2 separate regions of the Homo sapiens genome follow, and region 1 is linked to region 2. The links come from fine-mapping of genetic effects on gene expression. A gene starts in region 2. The other region holds a variant in brackets. All regions are shown on one strand. Distances are between the middles of the regions.

The links.
Region 1: its variant is fine-mapped to the expression of WDR62 in tibial nerve (GTEx, PIP above 0.99).

What each region holds. Positions count from the first base shown.
Region 1 is chr19:36,096,593-36,101,963 of GRCh38, forward strand. WDR62 (WD repeat domain 62) reads left to right here. Exons shown (of 32, transcript NM_001083961.2): 21 at 435-487; 22 at 2,807-3,025; 23 at 4,156-4,283; 24 at 4,622-4,725; 25 at 5,072-5,182. Among named protein-coding and RNA genes, the nearest start is that of OVOL3, 12 kb to the right of the region's middle. RefSeq lists an enhancer at 4,015-4,516. The variant T/C (reference allele first, on the strand shown) is at 2,835.
Region 2 is chr19:36,052,183-36,057,553 of GRCh38, forward strand. It overlaps WDR62 (WD repeat domain 62), which reads left to right and starts at 2,715. Exons shown (of 32, transcript NM_001083961.2): 1 at 2,715-2,966. The coding sequence starts at 2,790. THAP8 (THAP domain containing 8) reads right to left here and starts at 2,103. Exons shown (of 4, transcript NM_152658.3): 1 at 1,953-2,103. The coding sequence starts at 2,035.

The sequences.
Region 1 (5,371 bases), 44 kb after region 2:
CCCAGCTACTTGGGAGGCTGAGGCAGGAGAATGGCATGAACCCGGGAGGTGGAGGTTGCAGTGAGCCGAGATCGCGCCACTGCACTCCAGCCTGGGCAACAGAGCGAGACTCCGTCTCAAAAAAAGAAAAAAAAAGAGAACCCCAAGAGTTCTCCAAACCCAGTTACTGCCCCACCCTGCATTGCATTAGGCTCTCCATTGTCCCCACACTTTTCCTGCCATCCTTTGGTAGTATTAAGCTTTTTCACCTCGGTCAGTCTCGTGAGTCAAATATCGCATCCCACGGTTTAAGTTTGCATTTCCCTAACCCCCGGTGCTGTTGAGCCTTCTGACTTCTGGGTTGTGGTGTTGCCTCTTTGGGGACTGCCCGGTTATGTATGTGGCCTGTTTGTTGGGTTGTTTGTCCTCTTTTCATGGATTCTGTGTCTTTCCAGATCCTCGTTGCCTGCTAACCAACGGCAAGCTGCCACTGTGGGCAAAGCGGCTGGTAAGTCTTCAGGGAGAGGGTTGCTCAGGGGCTGGCAGAGGAAACGCCTCCCCAGCTCTGCCTTCTGGAAGCCCTTTTTCCTTTCCATGTCCCTCTTTTCCCTGGAGAAGCCCTGTCATCCTTCCAGGCTCAGTGAGACAGCCCTTTGTTCATGATCAGTGCTCTCTGCCAGGCATTGTTCTGGATGTCAGGGACACAACAGTGAGCAAGGGAAACAAAAGTCTCTCCCTTCACAGGCTCACTTGCCTGTGTGGGCGAGGAACAATATCCCCATTAAATAAGTAAATGACGTAGTAGGTTGGGTGCTGATAAGTGCTGTGGAGGGAAAAGAATCAAGAAGGAAAATACGTCAGCCAGGTGCAGTGATACGTGTCTGTGGTCCCAGCTACTCAGGAGGCTGAAGTGGGAGGATCACTTGAGCCCAGGAGGTTGAGGCTGTAGGGAACTGAGAAGGCACCACTACTACACTCCAGCGTGGGCAACAGAGTGAGATCCTGTCTCAAAAAAGAGAAAAAGAACAGGGGCCCAGCACGGTGGTTCATGCCTGTGATCCCAGCACTTTGGGAGGCCAAGGCAGGTTGATCACTTGAGCCCAGGAGTTCAAGACCAGCCTGAGCAATATAGTGAGACCCCATCTCTACAAAAAATAAAAAAATTAGCCAGGCATGGTGGTGCATACCTGTAGTCCCAGGTACTCAGGAGGCTGAAGTGGGAGGATTGTTTGGGCCAGGGAGGTCGAGGATGCAGGGAGCTGCACTCCACAGCACTCCAGCATGAGCAACAGAGCCAACACTTTGTCTCATAAAAAAAATAAAAATAAAAAAGAAAATAAGGAGTGTTGGGGGGTGTCAGTTTTAAGTAAACAGGAAAGGCCTCATTGGGAAAATGATGTTTGAGCAGAGTTGAAGCAAGTGAGACAGGCAGATACTGGGACGAATGTTCTAGTCATAACAGCCTATACGTGTAAAAGCCACGAGGCCAGGAGCTCGAGACCAGCTTAGGCAACATAATGAGACTCCCATCTCTACAAAAGATTAAAAATAGCCAGGCATGGTGGTGCACACCCATAGTCCCAGCTACTCAGGAGCCTGAGGCAGGAGGATCACTTCAGCCCAGGAGTTGGAGGCTGCAGTGATCGTGCTACTGCACTCCAGCTTGGATGGCAGAACGAGACCTTGTCTCTTAAAAAAAAAAAAAGAAAAAGAGACCGGGTGCGGTGGCTCACGCCTGTAATCCCAGCACTTTGGGAGGCCAAGGCGGGTGTAATCCAAGGTCAAGAGATCAAGATCATCCCGGTCAACATGGTAAAACCCCGTCTCTACTAAAAATACAAAAATTAGCTGGGCATGGTGGTGCATGCCTATAGTCCCAACTACTGGTAAGGCTGAGGCAGGAGAATCACTTGAACCCAGGAGGCAGAGGTTACAGTGAACCGAAATCATGCCACTGCACTCCAGCCTGGCGACAGAGTGAGACTCCCTCTCAAAAAAAAAAAAAAAGAAAGACAATGTGGATTATAAGAGACAGAATAAGAGAGGTGAATGAAGGATGATCCCAAGGTTGGGGCATGAGTAACTGGAAAAAACAACTGAAACAGGGAATCTTTAGGAGGAGCAGGTTTGTGCAGAGGAAATGAGTTGAGTTGTCAGCATGTTAACTTTGAAATACCTACCAGACATCCATACAGAAATGTAGAGCAGTCACATGTGCAATTCTGAAGTTTCAGAGAAAAGTTCATGAATCCCAGCTGGGCATTCCCAGCACTTTGGGAGGCCGAAACAGGATTCCTTGAGCCCAAGGGTTTGAGACCAGCCTGAGCAACATAGTGAGAGTCCACCTCTACCAAAAACCAACAAAATGGGCTGGGCGCAGTGGCTCATGCCTGTAATCCCAGTACTTTGGGAAGCCGAGGCGGGCGGATCACTTGAGGTCAGCAGTTTGAGACCAGCCTGGCCAACATGGCAAAACCCCATCTCTACTAAAAATACAAAAATTAGCCAGGTGTGGTGGTGGGCACCTGTAATCCCAGCTACTCTGGAGGCTGAGACAGGAGAATTGCTTGAAACTGAGAGGTGGAGGTTGCAGTGAGCCAAGGTCACGCCACTGCACTCCAGCCTGGGAGACAGAGCAAGACTTCGTCTCAAAAAAAAAAAAAAAAAAAAAAACAGAGAAAGGTTCACGCTGGAGATATGTACCTGGAAGTTGTTTCTGAATGGTATTGAAAGCCAAGAGTCCAGATGGGCTGTGTGAAATGTCCGTGTCGCTCCCTGCAGTGAGTGAGCACTCAGCCAGTTGCCTGACTGTCCGATATCCTTCAAGCTAGGGGACGATGATGTGGCAGATGGCT[T/C]GGCCTTCCACGCCAAGCGCAGCTACCAGCCCCACGGCCGCTGGGCAGAGCGGGCCGGCCAAGAGCCCCTCAAGACCATCCTGGATGCCCAGGACCTGGATTGCTACTTTACCCCCATGAAGCCCGAGAGTCTGGAGAACTCCATTCTGGATTCACTGGAGCCACAGAGCCTGGCCAGCCTGCTGAGTGAGGTACACACTTCCACCGCAGCCTGGCCCATAGCCCCGGCACCGTGACGGCCCCAGGGCCTGGCGCCTTAGGCTGACTCCCACTCCATGGGGGCAGGGAGGATTACATGAGATGGTGAAGGGCAGGAGGGTGAGCCCCAGGTCTGTTGCACAGCAAGACTTCCCAAGGCAGACAGGGAGTCTTTGGAAAGTGGGTCACTTGGGGGTTAAGAGCTTGGATGCTAGAGCAGGCTTGTACCCAAGTGGGGGACATTTGGGTAGATCGAGCCCTGACCCTACCCATTCCTGTTGTGTGACCTGGAGTAAGAGGCTTACCTCTTTGGGCTTCAGTCTTCTAAAAAGTAGTCATAATGGGGTCAGGGGCAGTGGCTAACACCTGTAATCCCAGCATTTGGGGAGGCCAAGGCAGGAGGATTACTTAACGATCACTTGAGGAGTTCAAGGCCAGCCTAGGCAACGTAGCAAGATCCCACCTCTACAAAAATATTTTTTAAATTTTTTTGTTTGTTTTGTTTTTAAATGGTAATAACAATCTCTTCTGCCCCAGAGGGCTTTTACAGGAATCCATGCTTAAGTATAGGGCCTGGGCTCTTAGAGGTGCCCGTGCAACTTTAGCTCTTTCTCTACTATTTTCCAAACAAAATTCATTTTTATCCTATCCTATAATTTGTCATCTTCATTGTGGTATAATATACATCCAGTAACATGCACAGATTTTAGGTATACAGCTTGATGAACTATCTGTGTAATTCACGTGTGTCCACTACCCTGGGCAAAATCTGGAGTGTTTTCTACCTCATAGAAACCCCCTTCTGCCCTTCCCAGTCAGGTCCCCGCACCAGGATAACCAGTGTTCTGACCTCTCACCAAGGACTGGGTTTCCTATTCTTGAACTTGATATAAATAGACACGTAGAGGGTTGGGCCTCCTATTTTTGGTGCCACACCTCTTCCTCATCTGTAAAGGGACTGATAATGCAGGGGCAGACCAGGACAAGCTGGTTGCGAGTGGAGGGCATGGCACAGGCCCTGGTTCACAGCCTCCAGCAGTGGGGCTGCTGGCATGGTTCCTGGCGCACTGTTGGTGGCCCCAGCCATGCCTGCCTCAGAATGGCTGTGCTGTCTTCCCCATAGTCAGAGAGTCCCCAGGAAGCTGGCCGCGGGCACCCCTCCTTCCTGCCCCAGCAGAAGGAATCATCTGAGGCCAGTGAGCTCATCCTCTACTCTCTGGAGGCAGAAGTGACAGTCACAGGGACAGACAGGTGGGTGTCCTTTCCACCAAGGGAGCCTTAGTTGGAGGAACCCCCAGCTGATAGCTGCATCCTGGAAGAAGTGCTCTCTGCCTTCCCAGTGGGCTTGTGGGAGTGGGGACAGTTGAGGCCTGGATGGGGCAGGAGCCCAGCCTTAGTTCCCTGGTTCCAGGTGGGGTACAGGAGGGCCTGACCTGGGGGAAGGAGGGGGCATTTGGAGGAGGCGGGGAGGCTGTCGCAGTGCTCCTGCAGGAGCAGCGGGTACAGGTGCCTAGGGGCTCCGGGTGGGGCTAGCTGTTGAGTCTCCAGCTGAAGTCCTTGTTCCCTCTCTGCCCCCACTGGCACTGCAGCCAGTATTGCAGGAAGGAGGTGGAGGCCGGGCCTGGAGACCAGCAGGGCGACTCCTACCTCAGGGTGTCCTCCGACAGCCCAAAGGACCAGAGCCCGCCTGAGGGTGAGTGCAGGGCAGGCAGGGACCCTGTGACAGTCTGTGCGTTCAGCCAAGCCCCTTTCTGGGCACCGATGGTGACTTTGACCCAGTACTGAAGCTCAGAGTCTGTCGAGGAAGACACATGTGGTCCCTGCTGCTGCCTGAGGATTCTGGGCCCAGCTGCCTACAGCTGAGAGCCCAGCTCTGCCACCTCCTTGATGTGGAACTTCCCTTATTCATAAAATGGGGGGCAGCTGCTCTTACCATCCCTCCTCCAGATGGGGAAACTGAGCCCAGGGAAGGGTAGCCCTGGCCCTGGCTCACCAGAATGGTCAGGCTGTGGGCTCCTGACCCCGACTCTGTCCTTCAGACTCGGGGGAGTCAGAGGCCGACCTGGAGTGCAGCTTCGCAGCCATCCACTCCCCAGCTCCGCCTCCTGACCCTGCCCCTCGGTTTGCCACGTCGCTGCCCCATTTCCCAGGTAAGCAGGGGCCAGACACGCAGGGGACTCGCTGCTCGGGCCTGGCTTAGGGCCAGTCACAATGTCTAAGCACAGGCCCTGCACTTGGAGCCCACTGAGCCTGGAAGACGGGGATCCCTGCTTCTCAGCCTGCGGGCAACAGGGCAGGGATGGGTGGGGCCCGCTTTCTCCATTTCAGGTGGCGTCTGC
Region 2 (5,371 bases):
TACAGGCATGTGCCACCACACCTAGCTAATTTTTGTATTTTTAGTAGAGACAAGGTTTCGCCATGTTGGCCAGGATGGTCTCGATCTCCTGACCTCGTGATCTGCCCGCCTTGGCCTCCCAAAGTGCTGGGATTACAGGCATGAGCCACTGTGCCTGGCCAGTTGCCCGCTTTTTATGAGAATCTAATGCCTGATGATCTGAAGCGTTTCATCCCAAAACCATTCCCCCAACCCTATCCCATCCGTGGAAAAACTGTCTTCCACAAAACCAGTCCCTGGTGCCATAAGGGTTGGGGACCACTGCCATAGGCCCTATGGGCCTTTGTTTTGTGAGGGAGTCTCAACAAACAGAGTTATTTTTTAGGTGAAATGTAAACTAAGCAGTGTTCAGATTGCCTCAAAGCAAATCAGAACTGTGTGTAAAGGGATCAATATCAGGTCCGGATGGTGAAGTGGGCCCAGGGTTTGTCTTCTCAGATGCAATAAAGTTTACATAGATGTAGAATATTGTGTCCTTATCTGAAGCTCCAAACCTGGATTGTAAATAGGGACTGCTTTTCTGTGTCAAAGTGACTTAGCTCCTCCAAGCAAAAGTGAGATGTTTCATTCTTACTTGATGTGATTTCAAACAGCAAAGTTTGTGATCATCTCTGACTTTAGACAACCAAAGTTTCCTACTAAGAAAGCAGTAGACACTCAAAGGATGGGAATTCTGCCACTTTACATCTGCAGTATGTCCAAGAGAAATATTTTTTCCTGGCTGGGTGCAGTGGCTCACGCCTGTAATCCAAGCACTTTGGGAGGCCGAGGCAGGAGGACTGCTTGTGCCCAGGAGTTTGAGACTAGACTGGACAACATAGGGTGATCCCATCTCTCTCTTTAAAAACAAAATTTTTTTTTTTGAGACGGAGTCTCACTCTTGTTGCCCACGCTGGATTGCAGTGGCCTCATCTTGGCTCACTGCAACCTCTGCCTTCTGGATTCATGCGATTCTCCTGCCTCAGCCCACGGAGTAGCTGGAATTACACGCATGAGCCACCACGCCCATCTAATTTTTGTATTTTTAGTAGACACGGGGTTTCACCATGTTGGCCAGGCTGGTCTCGAACTCCTGACCTCAGGTGATCTGCCCGCCTCGGCCTCCCAAAGTGCTGGGATTACAGGCGTGAGCCACCAAGCCTGGCAAAAAAAAAAAAAAAAAAAAAAAAAAAAAAAAATTTAAATTATCCAGGCATGGTGGCGCGTGCCTCTGGTCCCAGCTACTTGGTAGGGTGAGGTGGGAGGATCACTTGAGCCCGGGAGGTCGAGGTTGCAGTGAGCTGTGATCGTTCCACTGCATTCCAGCCTGGGCGACAAAGCGATCTTGTCTCAAAAAAAAAAAAAAAAAAAAGCAAAGAAATGTTTTTTCCTAGTAATTCTTCCACCAACTGGCTTATGTCAGCCAGATAAATAAGGAGACAGATCTTTTACAGTCGAAGCTAATTCTGACTTTCCCAAGTATGACGAAAGAGGTAAGGATGACATTTTTTAAACCTAAGCAACAAGAAGAATGAAGCACGCTACTAAGATAAGACAGACTGGAAGGTTTTGGGGAGACACGATCGCAAGCTCAGTTTCGGATGCTCTGAGTTTCAGATGGCTCAAATGCGTGGGGAGGGCAAGTGGGCATCTGCAGGCTCTCTAACAGCCTGCACCGACTTCACTTCTTACATCCCTTTCACTCTTCGGCTCGCTTCGCTCGCTATCTGTAGTCAATCGTCTACTCCTGTTTCCCACGCCTGCACCTTTGTATGTGCAATGGACACTGCCAGGAAGGCCATCTCCTCATGGTTTAACCCCACTTCCTAACACCCTCAAGCAAGACCAGAAGCCCCGCACAGCAGCACTAATGCTCGGGCCCCACCCCTCTCAGGGTCCCGCCTCCCTCAAGCCCCGCCCCGCGCTGCGCTCACTTGTAGAAGCTCACAGGGCGGTTGTCTGCACCCAGGCGGCCCGCAGTGTTGGAGCAGTTCGGCGCCCTGCAGTACTTGGGCATGGCTATCCAGCCCCCGCTGAGTTTTGCCGGGTCAGCGGCTGCACTTTGGTTCTCGCGGAGCGCCGCCTAACCCCGCCCCACCCGCGCTCGCCGCCTGCCTCACGTGACGTCCGTGGAGTCTCGTCACGTACCGGGGAGAGAGCTGAGAGCGCCTGCCTACTAGGCGCCCCTCCACAGTGCCACAGTCCCGCCCTCGTCACGTGACGAATGGGCCATAGCGAGTACTGTGCACCTGCGCAAAGCCGGCCCTTCGTCACCCCGACTTTCATCACGTGTTGGGGGGAAGGGCGGCGTCACGGCGTTTCTGAGCCTGCGCCAACCAAATCAACTGGCTAGTCAATCTCTTACGGCTCCACCCTACGCCTACATCCGGGCAACCGTTGGGGCGCACATAGTTCCTCTAGGTGGCGGCAAAAACCGAGGTGAGGCGGCCGTGGCCTTAGCCTCGTAAAAATTAAAACCTGTATGTTTCAGCGAATAATGAAAACGCAGTCTGGATGAAAGACCCCATGACGCTTAATCAGGCATCCAGTACACTGGCTGTGGCCCCGCCCCGCCAGGCACTCGCTCCGCCTCTTCGCCCCCATTGGTTCTAAGCGCCGCCCGGCATCCCTGCGATTGGCTAGGCCGGGCCCGTCGCGTCCAATAGGCGGTGGCGCCGGCTTTCCCGCGGCTGTTCGCTGTTCCAGTGGGTCGTGGCGGTGGCGGCAGCGGCGGTTAGGGGATGTAACGGTCGCCCGCCTCCGGCGTGACGATGGCGGCCGTAGGGTCCGGAGGCTATGCGCGGAACGATGCAGGGGAGAAGCTGCCCTCTGTCATGGCGGGAGTTCCGGCGCGGAGGGGCCAGTCCTCCCCGCCCCCCGCCCCACCAATCTGCCTACGGCGGCGGACGCGACTCTCGACGGCCTCCGAGGAGACGGTGCAGAACCGGGTGAGAAGCTGCTCGCCATGTCTACCCCAGTTCCAGGCTTCCTAGGTTTCCCCTAGTCCCGTCCTGAGAACTGTGGCCCCGACATCAGCCCCCGGCCAGTCCCCTCAGGTTGTTCCCTGCCATGCCTCGTCCCCTAACCCCCGCCCCTTTAGCCACGGCCCCTCCCACTTTCTCCTCGCTGCTTTCCCGGCTCCACCCTCAGCGTTGGAGCAATTCGGGGGTTCCTCGCTGGTTCCCACCCGTGGAAATGCATTTTGCTTCTGTAAATCACAGCCTAGTCCTGCTATATTTTAACCCCCGTTCTATCGCCTTTAGACGTCACGATCATAGCTCACTGCAGCCTCACTGCCCTGGCCCCCGCTGAGTCATTAAGGTCCCTTCGAGGGTTCGGTCCAGAGTGTTACCTGCCCCAACTCTTCCTCGCTTCTACCCCGCCTTCTCTCACCTTCTGCGATCTCTATCCTTTTTCCTCACCAAGGTGGGATTCTTAATCCATATTGTCACTCAAAACTATGAGAAAGACGTGAGAAGTTATTTATAAAATCTCTGCAGTGCTGCCTGGGGAGGAGGGCGTACAGAACAGTTCCCTAAATCCTGAGACAGAAAAATGGAAAGAAATGATTTCACAGTAGGTAGAAGGAATTCCATTAGCACAGCGGCAATTAAAAAAATTGTTTTCCAGCTGTGTAGGCACAAAATCTGTTTTTATAAAATGGAGATGATAAGAACCATACTACTGGTAGGGCGCGGTAGCTCACGTCTGTAATCCCAGCACTTTGGGAGGCCAAGGTGGGCTGTTCACCTGAGATCAGTTCAAGACCAGCCTGGCCAACATGGTGAAACCCGTCTCTACAAAAAGTAGAAAAATTAGCCCGGCATGCTAGCGCGCGCCTGTAATCCCAGCTACTCAGGAGGCTGAGGCGGGAGAAATCGCTTGAACCTGGGAGGCGGAGGTTGCAGTGAGCTGAGGTCATGCCACTGCACTCCAGCCTGGGCGACAGAGTGAGACTCTGTCTCAAAATAAATAAATAAATAAATTATACTATTGCATTGGAGGGAAATGAAATTTTAATTGTGATCTTCTTGGCACGGAGTCCAGATAAAGGGAGGATACCTGGTAGCTGCTGGTGGAGCTTGTTCCTGCCCCATGACTTTCTCCTGCACTGTGATTATACCGCCCACTCCTGGCTACAGGGCTCTGGCTGTACCTCCCATGTGCTCTCTGTCACCAAGGTTCAGTCACACTGGCCTGCTTTTGGTTTTCCTGAGGCTCCATATTCTTTTCTGCCTCCTGGCCTTTGTGATTGGTGAGTCCTCAGCCTGGGCTTTTTGCTGCAATCTGCCTGTCTGGCTCCTTCCCATCCTTCAAGTCTCAGCCTGAATGTCGCTATCTTGAAAGGCCTTCTCGAACCCCATTCTAAAGCAAACAGCCACCTTCATCTGTCACCCAGCACCCTATACTTCATAGCCTTTATCTTATATGTTCCTGAAAGTGCCCTTTGAGCTATTAAACTACATATAACAATAGCAAATTCAGAGAGGCGTTATAGCAAAGTGGCTAAGAGCACAGACTGCTGCTGATGGTATGGTTGGACCCAGGCAGCCTGAGCTTAAACTTTAGTCCTGTTCTTCCTGGCAGGTTATGAACTTCGCTTTTTCTTTTCTTTTTTTTTTTTTTTGAGATGGGGTCTTACTCTGTCATCCAGGCTGTAGTGCACTGGGTTGATCTCGGCTCACTGCAGTCTCAGCCTCCCTGGGCTCAGGTGATCTTCCTGCCTCAAGCCTCCTGAGTAGCTGGGACTGCAGGCGCATGCCACCATACCTGACTAATTTTTTTGTGTTTTCTGGTAGAGACAGGGTCTCGCCGTGTTGGCCAGGCTGGTCTTGAATTACTGAGCTCAAGCGATCTGCCTGCCTCGGCCTCCCAAAGTGCTAGGATTACAGGCGTGAGCTACTGTGCCCCGCCAAGTTATGAACTTATCTGTGCCTCAGTTTTCTTATCTGTAAAATGAGAATAATGATGTAGAAATCTCTCATAGGGTATTTGTGAGGATTCAATGAGGTTACATATCCTAGGCACTTAGAACAACACTGGCATATGGCAAGTACTCTATTCATGTTAGCTAATACTGATATTATGACTGTGTATTTGGGGTAATATTTATTTATTTTTTTTGTTTGGCAGCACAGAGTTGATCTGTCTTGCAAAGACCTAGTCTAAAAGTGACCATTCATACCAGGGCCCAGTAATGCTGATCGACAGATAAGACAACATGAGTGCCATGGCTTGGTTGTTTGTGTTGGAATCCTGGCACTACCCCTTCCTGGATGGGTAACCCCTCTTGGCCTCTGTTTCCTCAACTGTTTTGTTCCTTTTTTTTTTTGAGACAGAGTCTCACTCTGTC